Regions from separate parts of the Homo sapiens genome. Here region 2 is linked to region 1. Evidence: fine-mapped expression QTL. A gene starts in region 1. The other region holds a variant in brackets. All regions are shown on one strand. Distances are from middle to middle. Region 1 holds the start of UHRF1 (ubiquitin like with PHD and ring finger domains 1). Region 2 has its middle 11 kb from the start of PLIN3.

Region 1 (4,381 bases):
ACGCCCCAGGTCAGCAGCAGCCGCAGCACAGCAGGCTCAGGGTGGCGGAAATTCCTGATTAGCAAGCGCCATCTCCAGACTCTGAATAAGCTAATCCAAATTTTTAGAAACAAACACTCGCAGGGTCTGATGCTTAACCGGTACAGGCTGAGAGCAATTGGTGGTGGATGTTTAAAAAAGAAAACCTGGTCCCCTCCGTCCTAGCTACCAGATGGTCCTGGGCCCTTTCTCGAAAATTCCTCAGCCTTCCATCGGCCACCTCCAAAACTTCTTTCTCTAGCCATTATTTTGAGGCGGAGCTTTGAAAAAAGAAGTTTAAAAGCCCAGACCCTATAGATTCGAGGGCCAGCCGCCAGCCCAGCGTGTCAATCTGTGAGTCCTCCCTTTGTTCCTTCCTCTCGCAGGCATTTGAGGTTTCTGTGGACTTCTCCTTCCGGGAGAGATGAAGTGGGACCGGACGAGGTTGTTGGGGGGGGAGGTGGGAGGGAGAAAGTATCGGCTGGTGGCTGCAGAGGCGCGAGGCCTGGACCAGGCATAGAACAAAGGTGCTGGCGGCGGGTGTACCTGTTTGCCCCTGTAGAACAGCCTCTGCAGGCCTGGCTCCACGTGGAACAGCTCCTGGATCTTCCGCCTCAGCTCCTCCACCTTGGTCAGCCTGGACAGCGAGTCCACCGTGTGGGTCTGCCTCCCGTCCATGGTCCGAACCTGGATCCACATGGTGTCGGCGCTGAGGGGAGGGACAGCAAAAACCCCCATCAGTTTTACCAGCACCTCTGAGCCATGCCATGCTCTAAGGAGTCGGGGTTGCTTTTGTCCGGCCTGTGGACACCAGGAAACTCCCAGGATGCCCTTCCAGTCCTCCTGTACAGCCAGACCCTGGCCAGGACCAGACACAACAAATTAAGCACTTAAGGCATTAACGACTAGCCAAGTGTTGAAGATTGAGGAGGAAGGAGAATGAAAAGAGGGAATTGAAAGAAAAGCAGAAGGTCCAACCCATCCCTCCTTCCCCACGACCAGAGGAGAAAGGAGGCCCGGGCCAAGTGGCCGAGTTGGTTCGTTTATTCATTCATTCATTGATTCATTCATTCCTCGGATTCCTATTTACGGAAGAGGGAATCCCAGAAGTCCAGCGCGGGCCGGAACTTCAGAAGTCCCGGGGGAACTCAACCAAGTGCCACTGAGAGGGAAAAACCCCACCCGAGATCCGCGGACCCCGGGACCCCTCGGTGCCCACGCCCCCCCTCCTTGCCGGCCCCCCCCGCGCGCGTGCGCGACCGGGCCCGCCCCGCGGTGGCCATGGTAACCGGCCGCCCCGTCCCGGCCACCCGCGAGCGCGCGCGCCCCGCGACTCACCTCGACCTCCAACCCCCGGCAGCTCGCGCCCCTCCAAACCCTGGACCCTCGGCGTCCCTCCCGCACTCCCACTGGCCCGCGCGGGTCGCGCCAGCGAGCCCACGCCCACCCCCGCCGCCGGGACTACAGAGGGGGCCCCCGCTCGTCAAGTCCCGCCCCCCTTCACTTGAGCCGCCTCTTATTGGCTCCGCAGCACCCGGCCGCCCCGCCCCGCTCGCTCCCCATTGGCCCAGATGCTCCCGGGGAACTCAGGGCGCGCGAAATCGGGCTCGGGCGCGACAATTGAATCGCGGGGCGCCCCGCGCGCAGGCGCGGAGCCTGACATCCTCCCCGGCGGCTCGCCAGGCCCTCCCCCACCCGGCGCGCTCGACCCCCCGCCGGGCTCCGGGGACGCAGCGCTGGTCCCGGCTCCAGCCGGATGTGTGCCGGGGAACGATTCCCGAGGGTTAGGTGGAAGGGGAGGCCCTGGATCCCGGGACAGAGTGCGGGACATGCGTGCGCCCGGGCTGGCCGCGCGGGAAAGTTTTGCAAAGTTCCCGAGCCCCGTGCGCCCGGCCCGGGCTGGCACCCCGACCCGGCCCGCCCGCTCACCTCTCCGGTCGCCGCGAACAGCTTGTCTGCCTGCGCGCGTGGCCCGGCTGGGGATGGCGATGAAACCGCGTGCGTGGCCCGGACCCCGCGCGGACTTGCGTGCGACCCGGAGCGCCCGCTCGGCAAACGCTGCCCGCCGCGCTGCCAGCTGCTCTGATTTTTTTCCCGCGAAAACTCGGCATTTGGGAGTTGCGGGGCCGCAGGAGGCCGTGCCGGGGGCGGGCGCCTGCCTCCTGATTGGCCGACGCAGTGGCGGGAAGCGAGAAAGAGGGTGGGGGGCGCCCCCGCCTCTGTCCACGGCGCCTCCGCCTAGTGGGCCACGGCTCCGCCCAGCCCTGCGCGCTCTGCTGGGCGCGCCCAGCGTGCAAAGGGGCTGCGTGGCAGGGCCTGGTCACCCCCCGCACGTGGACACCCCAGGAGCCTTGGGGACCCCCAGGGTACAGACCCCCTGAACTCTTAAGTCCAAGTCCGTTCGCAGCCCCCCACTCGCACGCATTGACCAGTAGGTCTAAGAAGGCCGGAATCAATGTGTAAATACTGCGAGGGAATGTGGGGGGCCCCTAGGAGACCACCTGCACCCTGATGGCTCGCCCGATCGCCCCAAGCCCCACTGCCTGGCGTCAGGGCCTGCCAGGGCTCCCCACTCTACCCACCCGCAGGGCTTGTTTGCTGTCTTTTCCCGCCTCGTTTTCCCGCCTTCTCCAGGCTGTCCAGGCGGGCAGGGCTGCCCTGCCCCCTCCGCCCTGTCTGTTCCACTCTGACCAGTCCTGGCGGGCACAGGAGTGACCTGTGCTGGGCACCTACAAAGCAGCCGGACAGGTTGCTCAGAGCTGCAGAACCCAGCGGTGTACATGGCAGACCCAGTTGGTGGTCTCAGGGAGGGAAAATTCCTATCTGGGGGAGACAGGCAAGAAATGAATAACTAAAGCAGATAATTTCAGATGATTCCTTATAGGAGAGTGACCAGCAGCCATGTGGTGGGAGGCGGGGAGAGAGGATACTCTCTCACTGGGGCCACTGCGGTGGGCCTCTCAGAGAAGATGACATTTGAGCTGGAATCGGAGATGAGACTCCAAGGACAGATGGGTCTAGGAGGGAAAGTCAAACCCAGAGGCCGGAAAAGGCTTAGAGGTGTCCAGGGAGCAGGAAGGGGCTGGTGTGGTTGGGGCCCACTGAGCAAAGGGGAGGGGGAGTTGAGGTCAGAGGGGTGATATATAATACCTTGAAGGCCACCGGGGAGGACTTTGGTCTTTCCCTTGAGAGCTGTGAGCAGAAAAATGTTGAGTTCCCACTTAGCTTTTTACAGTTTCTTCGTCACTCTATTAAGTCTCCTCTATCTGGTCAGTGGGACTTCTGCTATGTCCCTAATATAGGAGACAGATCATGGCCCCCGAAGATATGCGTCTCTAGACCCCCACGTCCTCGCCCCCAGGATCTGTGAATACAGTGCCTTACACAGCTAAAAGGACTTTGCAACTTTGCAGGTGTGATTCAGTTAATGATTTTGAGTTGGGGAGCGTCTCCTGGGTGATCCAGGTGGGCACAATGTCCTTAAAAGGTCCTAATAAGTGAAAAAGGGATACAAAAGGTCAAAGTCAAAGGAGATGGGAAAGTGGAAGCAGGCTTTACAATGATCAGGCCAAGGGCCGGGCGCGTTGGCTCACACCTGTAATCCCAGCACTTTGGGAGGCCGAGGCAGGCAGATCACCTGAGGTCAGGAGTTCGAGACCAGCCTGACTAACATGGAGAAACCCCGTTTCTACTAAAAACACAAAATTAGCCTGGCGTGGTGGCACATGTCTGTAATCCCAGCTACTCGGGAGGCTGAGGCAGGAGAATCGCTTGAACCCAGGAGGCAGAGGTTGTGGTGAGCCAAGATCGCGCCATTGCACTCCAGCCTGGGCAACAAAAGCAAAACTCAGTCTCAAAAAAAAAAAAAAAAAAAAAAAAAGATCAGGCCAAGAGGCAAGGAAGATGGGCAGCCTCTGGTGGCTAGAAAAAGCAAGAAAGACTCCTAGAACCCGCCCTGCCCCTAAAATTTATTTCAGACTTCTGACCTCCCAAACTGTAAGATGATAAATGTGTGGGCCGGGCGTGGTGGCTCACACGTGTAATCCCAGTACTTTGGGAGGCCGAGGCAGGCAGATAACTGGAGGTCAGGAGTCGCCAGACTAGCCTGGTCAACATGGTGAAACCCCATCTCTACTAAAAATACAAAAATTAGCCAGGTGTGGTGGCCGGCGCCTGTAATCCCAGCTACTCGGGAAGCTGAGGCAGAGAATTGCTTGAACCTGGGAAGCGGAGGTTCCAGTGAGCAGAGATCGTGCCACTGCACTTCAGCCTGGACAACAGAGCGAGACTGTGTCTCAAAAAAAAAAATTAGCTGGGCAGGGTGGTGTGTGCCTATAATCCCAGCTACTCAGGAGATTGAGGC
Region 2 (4,381 bases), 31 kb after region 1:
AGATACCACTACCAATGCCCAGGAACTGAGGATCAGAGAGGTTCATTGATTTGCCCAAGGTCACACAGCAAACTCACTGCAGAGCCAGGACTCAAAACCAGTTCAACCAAACCGGTGATGTGAACCACTGTGAATACTCACTGCTTGCCTAAACTCTGACAGTTAGGCTGATATGAACGACCCCAGGATGGGAAATGTATGTATGTATGTATGTATGTATGTATGTATGTATGTATGTATAGTATGTATGTATTTTTGAGACAGAGTCTCACTCTGTCGACAAGGGTGGAGTGCAGTTGTGTGATCTCGGCTCACTGCAACCTCCATCTCCCAGGTTCAAGCGATTCTCCTGGCTCGGTCTCCTGAGTGGCTGGGATTACAGGCGCGTGCCACCACGGCTGGCTAATTTTTATATTTTTAGTAGAGACAGGGTTTCGCCATATTGGCCAGGCTGGTCTCAAACTCCTGACCTCAAGTGATCTGCCTGCCTCGGCCTCCCAAAGTGCTGGGATTACAGGCGTGAGCCACCGCGCATAACTGTACATGAGGGGTGGGTTCCTTCTCTGCGGCAAGGCCATCCTGGGTACTGAAGAGTGCTGAGCAGCATCCCCGGCCCCCACCCCCTCCATATCAGGAGCAACCCCCAGTCATGACAACCACAAATGTCCCCAGACATCACCCCATGGGCCCTGAAGGACAGACTCACCCCTGGTTGAGAGCTACACTGTACAGTATATACTTGGAGGCCTCTGTGGAGTTAATATATCTGATAGTAAATGCTATGCATGAGAATCCCACTTCTGATGTTTATTAATTATTATTATTATTATTATTTTGTTTTGAGTTGGAGTCACGCTCCAGTCTCAGGCTGGAGTGCAGTGGCGCGATCATAGCTCACTGCAACCTCAAGCTCCTGGGCTCAAACGATCTGCCCACCTCAGCTTCCCAAAGTGCTGGGATTATAAGCATGAGCCATGGCGCCCGGCCTCTGCTGTTTTGTTGTTGGTGTTGTTGTTGTTATTGTTGTTGTTTTGGGACAGAGTCTTGCTGTCTTGCCAAGGCTGGAATGCAGTGGCGCCATCTTGGCTCACCGCAACCTCCACCCCTGCCCTGGGTTCAAGCAATTCTCATGCCTCGGCCTCCCAAGTAGCTGGGATTACAGGCACCCGCCACCACACCTGGCTGATTTTTGTATTTTTAGTAGATACATGGTTTCACCGTGTTGTCCAGGCTGGTCTCACACCCCTGACCTCAGGTGATTCACCGGCCTCAGCCTCCTGAAGTGCTGGGATTACAGGCACCCGCCACCACACCTGGCTGATTTTTATATTTTTAGTAGAGACAGGGTTTCACCGTGTGGTCCAGGCTGGTCTCACACTCCTGACCTCAGGTGATTCACCCGCCTTGGCCTCCTGAAGTGCTGGGATTACAGGCGTCTGAGCCACCGCGCCTGGCCTCGGCTGTTTATTTGCTGAATGACTTTGGGCCAGTCGCTTCTGTTTCTGAGCCTCAGTTTCCCCATGTGTAAAAGGGGGATTTATTCCTAGCATCTTCCTCCGGAACACACTGGATTAAACCAGCCAATGCATATAAATGGCCTGAACCAAAGTCACCACTCACTCCATAGGCACCACCATTACCCCAGCGGGACTCTTCTGGAAGATTCTGATCTGCTGTACAGCACCCCCAGCGGGTCCCTGCCCCCTCCTTGCCAGCTGCCTCCCATTTCCAGGCCCTAGACTCAGTGGACCACACAGGCGGGCGTTGGGGACACTTCCTGTGCAGCGGCAGCAGTACCCGCCACGCCAGGTGGGCCAACGGGAGAATGCAGCTGGGGCCGCCCCACTTCCTGCCCCCGTGGAGGGGCCTCTCATTCTCCCTGGTCCCTACTCCCAAAATAACCCTCCCCCGCCCCGGGAACCAAAGTCACCCACACCAGCTGCGGCCTCCCACTTGGGGGACGTGGGACAGGCAGGGGACTAGCAGCTGCCACCACCACGGTGCCTGCCCCGCTGGGAA[C/T]GTCCACCCCCTGTTGCCACCACCTCCGACATTCCAATCCCCAAAAGTGCGGGGGGTGACCCGGCCTCCCTCGTCGTCCGGGAAATATGAACTCCAAGGAAGCCGGGCTGGCGGGGAGGAGGGAGATCCTCGGCCACCTTAGGTGACCGGGGACCCTCCCTGACCTGAACCCCCAGGCCTGAGGCGCCCCCAGTTTTCACCTCGTGTGACTGTGTTGGGGAAAAGGGGGTGGTTGCCAGGACAACAGCCCCCCACCTCCGCCCAGGGAACAAAGAGGCAGCCGGGAGAGCCAAGAACGGCCTGTTCTCTCCCCGCCAATGCGGCTGGCACATCCTGGCAGCTGGCACTGGGAGGGCCGTGCCCAGAGCCGCCAGGCCTGGCCATCCTGGACACGGTTCTCCAGGGAGGGATTGGCTGTGGGGGTGGCTGCGGCCCCAAGGAATGGAGTTGCAGGGGCCCGTGGGATCGGATTCCCAGGCAGCTGCCCCAGGCCTCCATCCTTCCCGGACATGGACAAGGAATCTGCCTGCCTGCAGGACTTGTGGGAGGCCCAAGAAGTCGTAAATGTCTGGCTCAGAGCCGGACGGGCCACCAGGGACGGAGGGTGCAGGAGACAATGGCCAGGTGGAGGCCTGGCCCGGGGTCCCCTCGGGCATTCCACGGATGGGCATGCGAGCCAGTAGGACACTCCTGGCCTAGGAGAGGGGACAGTGGGTCTCAGAGCTGCTCCCCTCCCCCACGCCCGCCAGCGCCTTGCAGGGGGCAGCGGGCAGCTGGCGCCATGAGGGCCTGGGGGTGGGGACAGGCCAGGGCCTGCATGTTAAAAGACCCCTGGCTTCCTGCAGCGAGCCCAAATAATTGCCAGACAAAATCCTCTGCCTTCTCACCGTTGGGCCACAGCTGGTCAGGTGTCCACCCGGTCGCTGGAGCCACAATGTGGCGGGGGGCAACGTGGACAACGTCTGGCTGAGTTGCCAGGTTAATTACAAGACAGGCAGTTAAACGAATTATTGTTGTTGTTATTATTAGTATTTGTTTTTGTTTTTATTTTGAGACGGAGTTTTGCTTTTGTTGCCCAGGATGGAGTGCAATGGCGTGATCTTGGCTCACTGCAACCTCCGCCTCCTGGGTTCAAGTGAGTCTCCTGCCTCAGTTTCCTGAGCAGCAGAGATTACAGGCACATGTCACCACATCCGGCTAATTTTTTGTATTTTTAGTAGAGACGGGGTTTCACCATGTTGGCCAGGCTGGTCTCAAACTCCTGACCTCAGGTGATCCACTCCACCCCCTCGGCCTCCCAAAGTACTGGGATGACAGGTGTGAGCCGTCGCACCCGGCCATTATTATTATTTTTTGAGACAGATTCTCCCTCTGTCACCCAGGCTGGAGTGCGGTGGTGCGATCTTGGCTGACAGGAACCTCTGCCTCCCAGGTTCAAGGGATTCTCCTGCCTCAGCCTCCGAAGTAGCCGGGATTACAAACGTACGCCACCACACCCAGCTGATTTTTGTATTTTTAGTAGAGACGGGGTTTCACCATGTTGGCAAGGCTGGTCTCCAACTCCTGACCTCAAGTGATCTGCCCACCTCAGCCTCCCAAAATGCTGAGATTACAGGTGTGAGCCACTGTGCCCGGCCAAAATGAATTATTATTATTATTATTATTATTTTGAGACAAGGTCTTGCTCTGTCACCCAGGCTGGAGTACAGTGGTGCCATCATAGTTCACGGCAGCCCTGACCTCCTGGGCTCAAGCAATCTTCCTGCCTCTGTCTCCGAAAGCACCGGGATTATAGGCGTGAGCCACTGAACTCCATTAAATGAAAAATGTTTAGCATAAGTATGTCTCAAAATAATTTGGAACATACTTACGCTAAAAATTATTCACATGGCCAGGCGTGGTGGCTCACACTAGTAATCCCAGCACTTTGGGAGGCCAAGGTGGGAGGATTACTTGAGCCCAGGAGTTTAAGACCAGCCTGGGCAACATGGTGGGACCCCCACCTGTATGAAAAATACAAAAATTAGCCCGATGTGGTGGCATGCACCTGTACTCCCAGCTACTTGGGAGGCTGAGGTAAGAGGATCGCTTAGGTCCAGGATGTCGAGGCTGCAGTGAGCCCTGATTGTACCACTGCACTCCAGCCTGAGCAGCAGAGCAAGACCCTGTCTCAAAAGAAAAACAAAGGCCGGGCGCAGTGGCTCACACCTGTAATCCCAACACTTTGGGAGGCCGAGGCAGGCAGATCATGAGGTCAGGAGATCGAGACCATCCTGGCTAACACGGTGAAACCCCATCTCTACTAAAAATACAAAAAAAAATTAGCCGGGCATGGTGGGCGTCTGTAGTCCCAGCTACTTGG

The links. PIP is the estimated chance that this variant, and not a neighbour inherited with it, causes the effect. A credible set is the group of variants that fine-mapping cannot tell apart.
Region 2: its variant is the best candidate, but not a certain one, in a credible set for the expression of UHRF1 in tibial nerve (GTEx, PIP 0.83).

What each region holds. Positions count from the first base shown.
Region 1 is chr19:4,907,222-4,911,602 of GRCh38, reverse strand. It overlaps UHRF1 (ubiquitin like with PHD and ring finger domains 1), which reads right to left and starts at 2,102. Exons shown (of 17, transcript NM_001048201.3): 1 at 1,948-2,102; 2 at 565-727. The coding sequence starts at 717. It also overlaps a transcript of ARRDC5 not described here. RefSeq lists silencers at 1,244-1,763, 2,264-2,343 and an enhancer at 2,163-3,069.
Region 2 is chr19:4,876,235-4,880,615 of GRCh38, reverse strand. No RefSeq gene overlaps it. Among named protein-coding and RNA genes, the nearest start is that of PLIN3, 11 kb to the right of the region's middle. RefSeq lists a silencer at 1,708-1,887 and enhancers at 1,300-2,181, 2,182-3,065. The variant C/T (reference allele first, on the strand shown) is at 2,020.